Homo sapiens: one gene and its partners. The protein of the gene in region 2 interacts with the protein of the main gene of each other region in a pairwise test. Each region holds a gene or a part of one and is shown on either strand. Other genes may lie near its edges.

What was found.
Region 1: the proteins of PMP22 (region 2) and SLC18A1 interact in binary tests that used the Homo sapiens proteins (3 or more experiments, as listed by UniProt).
Region 3: the proteins of PMP22 (region 2) and PGRMC2 interact in binary tests that used the Homo sapiens proteins (3 or more experiments, as listed by UniProt).

Annotation. Positions count from the first base shown.
Region 1 is NC_000008.11:20,145,042-20,148,693, forward strand, and holds part of SLC18A1 (chromaffin granule amine transporter), read right to left. Parts: intron 3,030-3,652; coding exon 2,966-3,029; intron 2,682-2,965; coding exon 2,562-2,681; intron 2,351-2,561; coding exon 2,217-2,350; intron 836-2,216; coding exon 722-835; 3' UTR 1-721.
Region 2 is NC_000017.11:15,255,175-15,258,826, reverse strand, and holds part of PMP22 (peripheral myelin protein 22), read left to right. Parts: intron 1-3,652. UniProt on the Homo sapiens protein: Might be involved in growth regulation, and in myelinization in the peripheral nervous system.
Region 3 is NC_000004.12:128,277,721-128,281,372, forward strand, and holds part of PGRMC2 (membrane-associated progesterone receptor component 2), read right to left. Parts: intron 1-3,652. UniProt on the Homo sapiens protein: Required for the maintenance of uterine histoarchitecture and normal female reproductive lifespan. May serve as a universal non-classical progesterone receptor in the uterus.

The DNA of each region.
Region 1 (3,652 bases), on a different chromosome or scaffold from region 2:
TCAGAAAAGGTAGGAACACACAGGGGAGGTCAGGAGAATGTCAATAACTCCAGCAGAAGAGAAATGGGCTCCTGTTTCTGAAAGATAATGAAAATAGAAGACACTTTTCACTGAGGGTAAAGCCCTTTTAGCAGCTCTAGATTTAGCCACAGAAAAATCACTCACTTTATTAAAAAAAAAAATAAATGAAAAAAAACAAAACAAAACTCTTCAAGCTGGCATTTGGCAGCAAGACAATGCTGAGAACATTTTCTCAACTCGGCTGGGAAAACCCGGGAAAGAACACGTTGAGGAAAAGAGGGTAACACTCTTCCGATCTGTTGGGACTATGCCAGAGAAAATCAGGCAACAGATTAAAGAGGCTTGTCAGTCACCCCACTGGTTTCAGGGGCACATTACTCACTACCACCTCTATGCAATGAGTCACCCCTTGCAGAACCCGTCACAGCTCAAGTTTAATCAACCTCACAGCAGCGGGAAGGTGCATCACTCTGTCTTCCCATAAAAGATGGGCCACTGCGGCACCAAGGCATAGAGGAAGAGCTACAAGTTACACAGGTGAGAAGAGTATCAGGGACAGTGTCCATGGGAGGGGAGGAAAGAAGATTCCCAGGCAGAGGTATGTGAAGCCCACTGAGCCGTGGGCTCAGCCATGGTGATCTGGTCCCAGGGAAAGAGGTGGTCACTGAGGCATCATGAATTCAAGGAGCACCTTCTGCTGCTACTCCTCATGGTCAGGCTCCTCATCACTGTCCTCCCCCAGAGGAAATTCCTTCGTGGGCTTCTGGGTTGCATACATCCGGGTCTCCATGGGGCAGTCCTGACTCAGAATAGCCTGCAGAGAGAGGCAAGAAGAGAAGCCACTGCACATTATTATCATTTTTTTTTTTTTGAGACGGAGTCTCGCTCTGTTGCCCAGGCTGGAGTGCAGTGGCGCAATCTCGGCTCACTGCAAGCTCCGCCTCCCGGGTTCATGCCGTTCTCCTGCCTCAGCCTCCAGAGTAGCTGGAACTACAGGCGCCCATCACCACGCCAGGCTAATTTTTTGTATTTTTAGCAGAGACGGGGTTTCACCATGTTAGCCAGAATGGTCTCGATCTCCTGACCTCGTGATGCGCCCGCCTCAGCCTCCTAAAGTGCTGGGATTACAGGCGTGAGCCACCGCGCCCGGCCAACCACCGCACATCTTTTTTTTACCAATCTCCTCATTCCGTCCTCCCACTAGTTCTTCCAAGGCTGGCATTGCTAAGTACTCAAGAAACATGCATAGGACCCTCTGCATGTACATGCACCAGCCTCCCGGGGTACCTAGTATATCAACCCTTGTCAGGACAAGTATCTCATTTGCTTTTAACTGAATTTAACAGTGGTAGTGAAAGTTACAGCAGGAAGCCAAATGGAATCACCACCACTCCCTATCACACCTTCATGTCTTCTTTTGTTCCCTTGAGCAGCCTCTGTCGGTATCCCAAACCCATCAGGCCCTCAGGATGTTTGTGCTGCAGTAAGAGGAAAGTGCTTTATTAAAGAAAATCCTATGGTATGGATCTCTTCCCTGGGGTTTTTGTACTTTTAAAAACGTGACCTGCTGACCAACATGGATAAACCCCATCTCTACTAAAAATACAAAAAATTAGCCAGACATGGTGGTACATGCCTGTAATCCCAGCTACTTGGGATGCCAAGGCAGGAGAATCTCTTGAACCCGGGAGGCAGAGGTTGTGGTGAGCCGAGATCACACTATTACACTCCACCCTGGGCAACAAGAGTGAAACTCCATCAAAAAAAAAAAAAAAAAGTGACCTGGTAAGGATAATGTTGCACTAGAGTGAATGAGTGGATGAACGGATGTGCCAATGGAATTCTGCCCACTTATGAGGGAGTTAACTTGGTAACTCACATCTTGCTAGTAACTAGCAAGCTAAGAACAGTAACTACAGGATGTCTTTGATGGTCCTCTGCCCCCATTTCCCTTCTCTACTGAAGACCCTTCCTGATAGCCCCAGAAAGAGGGAAGTGGTTACTTAGAGAAGGGAAATTAAGGAAGTGCACAAAAGAAATATGAAGATGAAAGGGGATTGGGAAACATGGCAAAGCAGAGAGAGTATCAACAGAGCAATAGAGGGAGGAAATAACAGCCCAGGATGAAAGGGAATGAGAGAGATGATGGAAAGAAACAGAAGTGAATTTCTCTTTTAACAGTCGGTGCTCCTTACAAGCTTCTCTTCCTTTGCCGGGGGGCTCCGCAGGTAGTAGCAGAGTGGAGCATAGACGATGTTGATGACCCCAGTGATGACCATGAGCCAGGGAAAACCGATGGCCTTTACAATGGCACCACCGGTGGATGGACCTGGGAGGGATACATCAAAGTCATAAGTGTCTATGGAGCCTCCATATGGAGCATCCTCCACGTAGGACACTATGCTAGGGGCAGTGGGTGACCCAGAGGATGTCTCAGCGTCAAAGATCTCCAGAACCCTAGGAGGATAGCTTCCTGGCTGCACTTCCAGCTGGTAAAGAGTAGACAGGGGAAAGTGGGGCACCAGGTCCTGCCAACATACCTATAGCAAAGCCCATGCAAAAAGCCACATCAGCGATGGCGTAGACACTCCCATACACCGAGGTGTGGCGTAGATCCACCAGGTGCCCCATGATGGGCATCATAGAAGAATCCACCATGCCTGTGGCCAGAGCAAACAGGACACAGTCAGCCCCACCCACAGTTAGTACCACCCCGCCTCTCCTCCTCCATTTAGTCCATTTGCTTTGTCTGCTGTCTTCTGCCTCGGACTAACACCTGTTCCAGGTGGGAATTACGAGCTCATCTCTCCACAACCCTGCCAGCTGCCCTCCTGATCCTTCTGCCTCTGCACCTACCTCCTCTGATGAGAAAAGGGGGAGGAAAGGCATCAGACCCAAAGCCAACATGCAGGGGCTTATTGTTTTCTTTGAGGGCACTTCTTACCTATGGCAAGGCCAAGCCCTGCATTGGGGCCAATGAGACCAAAAATATTGTGAGCCAGAGGAACCTGCATGGGGAAGGAGGAAGAGTCATCAGGACTCCAGATGGGTCAGGTGGGAGCAAGGTTCAAAGAGTTTTCACATGAAATGCATTTATTCAGAGTGCACTATTGGCCACATACATCATCCTCCTGCACTCTCAGACTTTCTCATGGAAAAGAATCTATACCTCCATTTTAAGGATATGAAAACTTGACCAGCGCTGTTGTGTTTATTTATTGCTCTATCCAGAGTTACAGATCTAATGAGTGGCAAGATCAAGTTTGGACCTCAGACTTGGCTCCATTATGCTCTAACGAGGGTCTTCCTCTGTTCCATGGATACTTTCTCCCCTTCCTCTACCCCTCTTCACCTAAACATACACTCCTGGTCTCATTCTTCATGGAATAAAGTTGCCTCTGTTTTCCATTATGGACATCACTGAAAGGTTTCATTTAGACTTCTAACTTGGTAGCTGTTGGAAAAAGAAGATAGAGAAGAGGCCCCAACAACCAGTTAGCTGTAAGCTAGAGGGGGCAGGTGGTGTGGCTTGGGTCCCCTGTCAGGAAGCTTGTGAGACTCATTCCCATTGCCCTCCCAATCCCCCAACAAAAACCCCTTCTTCCCTCTTTTTCAGGTTCCTTACCTCCCT
Region 2 (3,652 bases):
TGATTGAAAAAAATATCGACCTGGGAGCTGTGAAGGTGGTATGATAGCTAAGCCTTTGGCAGACCCCCTTGGGACATTGGATCAAACGTGTATCTTTGGTTTGGTGGCTGTCTCTATTCAGAAATGTCCTGCCCCTTTCTGCTGCAGTGACAGTGGGGCTAGCTCACTGCACCGTCAGTTACATGGACACAAGACTGGCTGCCTTTCCAGGTCTTGGGCCTCAGTGATGCCACCTAGCATCAAAACCTTTGAATGTTTCCTTGTTGCAAGATGGGGACTTGAAGCTATTTGCAAAACCCTAAGCTAAGCCTTGGGGTCCTTAATCCAGAAGATCGTATTTCTCCTCTGTCCTCAGCATCTTTGCTTGTGAGATATGGAAGCCAGGCTTCATGAGGGTCAAATTAAGGGATAATTGGCAGCAGAAGCACCAACTAGGTACCCAAGGCACCCAGAGGGAAAGGAACACCCAGCCAGGAGCCCTGTGTGTTTGGATGCAGACAGGTGGAGGTAAACAGGATGAGCTGTTTTGGTGGCTGGGTAGGCCATAGCGATTGATGTTAAGAGCCCGTGGACCTGGATCCACATGATCTTTTGTTCCAGAAGATGTGTCCTCAGGCTGGAAGGACCTAGAGATACAGCAGAGCTTTCCTAACATCCTGGGTTTAAAAGGCCACGGAAATACAGCTTTAAATGTTGCTGGAGCTACTCATAGATCCAGTATATATGTTCAAGATGCTACACCAGACGAGAGAAACCAGTTTAGATCCAGTTCAGTAAAACAGGCAGTGAAGTGGCCTTTGGTCCTGGCTTTGCATAATCCAGTTGCTTTGCTGGACTTTCCCTCTTACAGCTCAGTACCCAGTAATACCCAAGCATGTCCCCAGCTGAAGCATTATAAACCAAATTCCTTGAACCACAGTACAAATAGAAACTGCTAAAATAATAATTTGGTAATTTACATGGAGAAGATACGCAAGGAGTAGAAAACCCTGCTTTATGTTTTTACCTTCTGGGTTGGGGAGGGAGCAGAGAAAAGGTCCCAGTCCTATTGGAGTGAGAACAGTGCTTAATCTTGTCTCTGAGTGTGTGAAAGGCATTGAATTAAAGCCATCCCAGAAATTACGTGGTGGGTTTGCATGGTGAGTTGGCAACTGAGTAAATGAAATACTCATGAGTGCCTGAGAATGTGACCGTAGCACTGCTTGTCCCCAAAGCCACAGCATCCGGTTTCTCCCCCTTTAGGGTCTGGCTGAAGTTCCCGGAGCACTCCGGATGGGAGTCTCCGTACTCGCTACTGACACCTGGTGGTTACAAGTAGTGACTCAGCCCGAAAAGGGCAGGCTTTGGTGCTCACAGGCGCCATCCCCAAGTGGCATCTGGCCACGCGGCTTGGCACAGAATCCTGGACTCTTGGGCCCGGAAGGGGGCAGTTTTGGCAGGCGTGTTAAAACCCGGCGAAGTTTCAGCAGAAACGAGGCGGCAGAGGAGTTGCTAAGTTGTGCTTAAACCATCTGCAGGAAAGAAAGCAATATTGACCTGTAGCATGTTACAGATTGACATTTGGTGTCTTCTGCCGTTGGAAATAGCTGTCAGTTGGTGCTAGAAGCAGATCTCAAAGAGGCACTAGGGTTATTTTAATCAGGAAACTTCTTATCTCTCAACTTGTTCCTTCTGTGCCAAGCTCATGTTCTTGAGTTCATTTACAATGCCTCCTTAGTGTGGGTTTCAAATCTGCCTCGTTGCTTTCCGTGAGGACCCCAGAGTGTCTGTTTTCCACATCTCCCTTCTCAGCTCTCACAATCAGGGCATTTTGAAAACATCTGGACACTGCACCTGAACATGCTGGGTTTGTTTTCACGCCACTCAGGCTTAATCTAAATTTGAAATTTCCATTTACACTTCCCCAGTAGTGGTTATCTCTGCCGCTATCTTCCCCAACGTGGCAGCACTTGCTACGACTTCAGCCTTAAGTGGCGAATCCTCCAGGGCCTCTTTGATTGAGTTTAACAATTGTGGCTGCAGACAATAAGCTGAAAAAAATGTGTACTTTTTAAAACATTATACTGTCTTTACAAATGAACTATGCTCATTGCGAACCATTTAACTTGTCTGTATTTGCTCTTAGAAAGTATATTTGAAAAAAAATACTTGTTAAGTAATCAAAAGTAATTTGTTATTGACATCGATTTGTGAAGAATATGTTGCAAGTGTGAAAAAATAAATAGTGGTGCAATCTCGGCTGACTACAACCTCCACCTCCTGGGTTCAAGCGATTTTCCTGCCTCAGCCTCCCGAGTAGCTGGGATTATAGGCGCCCAACACCACGCCTGGCTAATTTTTGTATTTTTAGTAGAGAGGGGTTTCATCATGTTGGGCAGGCTGGTCTCGAACTCCTGACCTCAGGAGATCCACCCACCTCACCTCCCAAAGTGCTGGGATTAGAGGTGTGAGCCACTGCGCCATGTGACTTGGTATTTTTTTCTGAAAGGACTCATTTTTCTGGTGCATGACCATGACACTTCACCTCTCTCTGGGGGTTGCCACTCATGTTGTTTTCTACATGAATGGGGCCTCCTGGCATCGTGCCATGAGGCAGTCTAACATCTAGGTTGTGTAGTTTGAAAGAGACACACCAGATCTTGCCCCCAGGCTACATCTTAATATTAGAAATAGTTTTAGATTTTTAACTAACTGACTTTGACTCCGCCTGCCTTCTCGTTTTTCTAAATGTGTTTGTATACTTTCTGGCACCCCCTCCTTATCTGCCTCGTGTGGGCAGAGGTAAGAGAGGCTTAGTGTGGGGATATTCGTTATGATATTGTATCCAGTGCCTCTCCGGCCCAGGGAATACAAGGATCTGGAATGCATGGGCCTTGCCTTGATGGTCCCGAGCCTGGTCGAAGAGTCAGGAGATAGATATGGAAGGGTGAATCACTCCCTTGGAAGGCAGAGCAGGCCAGGTGCCCAAAGGGAGGCAGGCAGACAGCGTCTGAGTTCAGGGAGGAAGCGGATGGGAAATCTCTGGTGGGAGGTAGAATCTGATCCATCCTCCAAAGGATGGGCAGGATTTAAGTCAATACAGGCAACGGGGAGGAGAATATTCCCTGTGACCTAAGGTAAGGGTAGAACAAGGCAGGGGATGGGGTAGACTGGTTGGCTAGTGTTCTGGTTAGGATTAGGATTGATTGTGTATAAGAGAACATCTTCAAATGATAGGGGCTTAAGTAAGATCATTTATTTTTCTCTCTTTTCAAAGAAGTCTGGAAGTAGGTAGCCTGAGAGAGGTATGGAGGTTCCATGAAATTGTCAGAGATGCAGACACTTTCTAGCTCATTTCTTTGCCATCTCTTGGGTTTGGCTGTCATCTTCAGGAAACAAAAGGCTGCTAGAGCTCCAGCCATCTCATCCATGATTCAAGCAGTAGGGTGGAGAAAGGAGGTGGGGAAGAATGAATCTCCTTTTCTTTTAATGAAATGTGACATGGTCACACCTACACCTATTTACAAGAGAGGCTGAGAAATATAGTCATTCGGCCTTGGGGGAAGCATGGCTTTTCAAATCATAGAAACCTGGCAGCAAATACCTCTCTGTAAGCCTGGTGTGGAATACTTTCCTTGAGGGTTTGACCATCCCCTCCCATACCCAATCATAC
Region 3 (3,652 bases), on a different chromosome or scaffold from region 2:
TTAACTGAACTAATAAATTTTTTTATGCTTAGGTCCAGTAAGTCCCAAGACTTTTAGAGAGAATGCAGTATGGTAAAACTGAAATAATACCTCTCAAGAAGACAGATACTTGGGTTCTAGAGGATCCACTCACAATCAACAAGTCTCGATTTCCATAGTCCTTAGATCCCTCAAATATAAATTAGGAAAATTATTTTACCTGCCTGAAGTTGAGACCAAACTAAATAATCTCTTGAATAGTATGATTCTATAAGTGACTGAAAGTGCAATCTTGCTTCTGAAATTTGAGCTACTGTCAAAAGCGCTCAGCAACATTGTGAACTGAGCATATGGCCTTAACTCCAGGGTGCATGGGTAGGCTGGGGTAAAGAAAAGACAGAAAAATTAAAAGCCCAGGCCCGTGCCACTTATGGGAGTGGGGCCTGAGTTTATGCAACCCATGCAGAATGAAAATTCCAAGGTGAAAAAATAGTATGAACTCAAATATCTATAAGAATTAATGAACACTAAAGATAATACTTCAAGTATTAGGAAAAAGGGATTATTCCCCTGTTGGGGAAACATGTTGGGACAACTAGATAACCTTCTGTTAAAAAACACAACCCCTTGGGAGGCCAAGGCGGGTAGATCACGAGGTCAGGAGTTTGAGACCAACCTGGCCAAGATGGTGAAACCCTGTCTCTTATACTAAAAATATAAAAATTAGCCGGGCACGGTGGTGGGCGCCTGTAATCCCGGTTACTCAAGAGGCTGAGGCAGGAGAATCGCTTGAACCCGGGATACGCAGGTTGCAGTGAGCCGAGATGGCGCCACTGCACTCTAGCCTGGGTGACAGAGCAAGATTCCTTCTCAAAAACAAACAAACACCCACCACCCCACCAAATTTGGACTCTAATTTCACATCTTAAAGCAAAATCAATTTCAAATGGAACTAAAAAACTGAGACCACAGAAGTACTAAAAAAACTACAGATTTTTAAAAACAATTTTAAGTGCATAAAGTCTTTAAATATAATACATAACTTAGCAGCTATAAAAGAAAAGATAAATTTGAATACATAAAACCAAAACTTTGTGTGGTTCAAAAAAACACCATAAATAAGTAAAAGGACAAACTAGAAAAAATATTTGCGGCAAAGGCTGATTTACTTTATAAAGAACACCTAAAATCTGTACGATCAATATGATGATTGAAAAACTGCAGCAGGGCTGGGCGCAGTGGCTCATGCCTGTAATCTCAGCACTTTGGGAGGCTGAGGTGGGCGGATTGCCCGAGGTCAGGAGTTCGAGACCAGACTGACCAACATGGAGAAACCCCGTCTCTACTAAAAATACAAAATTAGCTGGGTGTCGTGGCGCATGCCTGCAATCCCAGCTACTCGGGAGGCTGAGGCAGGAGAATCGCTTGAACCCAGCAGGCAGAGGTTGCAGTGAGCCGAGATTGCATCATTGCACTCCAGCCTGGGCAACAAGAGTGAAACTCTGTCTCAAAAAAAAAAAAAGAGAAAAACTGTGGCAAAGGATATATGAATAAACAATTTGTAGAAAAGGCATCATAAATGACTCAACTTTTTAAAAAGAAGTCCAACCTCATTAAGTAAATGAGAAATGTAAATTTAAACAAATATTGAGATACCATTTTAACCTCTCAAGAGTGACAAAGACCAAGAAGCTTAATACCACGTTTTTGGCAAGAAGTGAGAAACAGGCATTTTCATCAAGTGTAAATTGGTCCAACCTCTCTGAAGGGCAGTTTAGAAACAAGAATCCAAATTAAAAATATCCATACCCCAAGCCTCGGTAATTTTATTTCCAGGAATTTACTTTATAATCATAATTTTACACACATGTGTAAAATGACATGTACATATTTATTGCAGCATCATGCAATAACAGGAGACTGAAAACAAATGTTAACAGTGGACTGTTAAATTATGACTTATTCATAAAATAGAATATTATGCATGTATTCAAAAGAATAAGATGGCTCTCTATACTGATGTCAAAGGCTCTTGTGATATTAAAATATTGTGAAGGGTATGCATAGTATACTATAATTAGTGTGGGGGGAAAGGAAGATATCCACATGCTTGTACTTGCACCCAAAATAGCTCTAGAACAATACGTAGACTGGTGCTTTGCTGCTATGGAAGGGAACATGGTGGCTGGGACTAGTTGTGGGAAGTAGACTTATTTTTCACTGTATATCCTTTTGAATTTTCTATTTTGAGCATGTATTACTTAATTTAAAAAATCATTGTTTTAACTTACGTGAGGCCCTATTTTGCAACATACCCAAAGCACTTTACCTCTTTCACAACTTAGGGCTCATGGAATTTTACAGGAAATACTCCAAAATTAAAAAAAGTAACTACTGAAGATAATAAGTTCACAATAAAAAATATAAACTACATGAAGAAACAAACCATCATGGAGGAGTGGGCACATATAACAGATACAGAAGCAGATTAAAGAACTAAAGTAAATTTGCTTAAAATTATTAAGAAATGGTACAAAAGGAAAGATTAAGAGACATTAAGAATAGAATGAAAACCTAATGTATATCTATTAACAGTTCCAGAGGAAGGAACAGAGATAATGGAAGAGGCAATAAGTAACAGCAAATTTTCTGGGAAAAAAAAAAAAAAAAAAAAAAGGACAATATATCCACAGACTTGAGTAGAGTTTGGTACATGGTAAATAAAATCAAATCCATACCTGGACAAATCCTAGTAAAATAGCAAAACCCCAAAGACAAAAAGATCTCAACTACAACCAAAAGGAAGAAAAAGATTAATAAAAGTAAAGAGAAACTACAAGCCGACTCCTCACCAACAAGTGGAAGACAGTGGCATAACGCTACTCAAGAGTTGAGGTATAATAAGGTCAATTTACATTTTTTTTTGAGACAGGGTCTTGCTCTGTCACCCAGGTTGAGTGCAGTGGTGTTATCAAGGCTCATTGATCTTCTGGGCTCAAGCGATCTTAATACCTCAGACTCTTGAGTAGCTGGGGCCACAGGTGCATGTCACTATGCCTAGCTAATTTTTTATATTTTTGTAAGAGACAGAGTCTCGCCATATTGCCCAGGCTAGTCTTGAACTGCTGGGCTCAAGCAGTCCTCCCACCTTGGTCTCCCAAAAATGGTAGGATTATAGGCATGAGCCACTGCGCCTGGCCCAATCTACAATTTTATATTCTAAACCCAAACTATTATTCCTGAGTGAGGAAAAATAAAAAATTTTTTCCTGCCAGTGAAAAACTATAGGACACACCTCACTAAAATAAAAAGTGAACCCCAAAGAAATGAGATGCAAGAAACAACAGTGAATTAAAAAAATGATAACCATGTTAGTAAATTTAAACAAGGACTATATTAAAAAGATAATAATTTCATCAATTTTGGGGTGGAGTTTGAAAAAACAAAGTGAAGCTAAAGTCTAATAGTGATACTGTGGAAAACAGGATGGGGGAGGAATCAGAGTTAAAGCTTTCTAACCAGGGCCTCAACATATGACTATGTACAACGCAGGGGATACTATCCATATTTGTAGTCATGGCAGTTTTGCTTATTTATTAAGAAATAATCTGTCAAATGTCAGTAAAGTATCTTAAAGAGGCAGCTTTTTCAAATTGACACTAAAATGATGTTT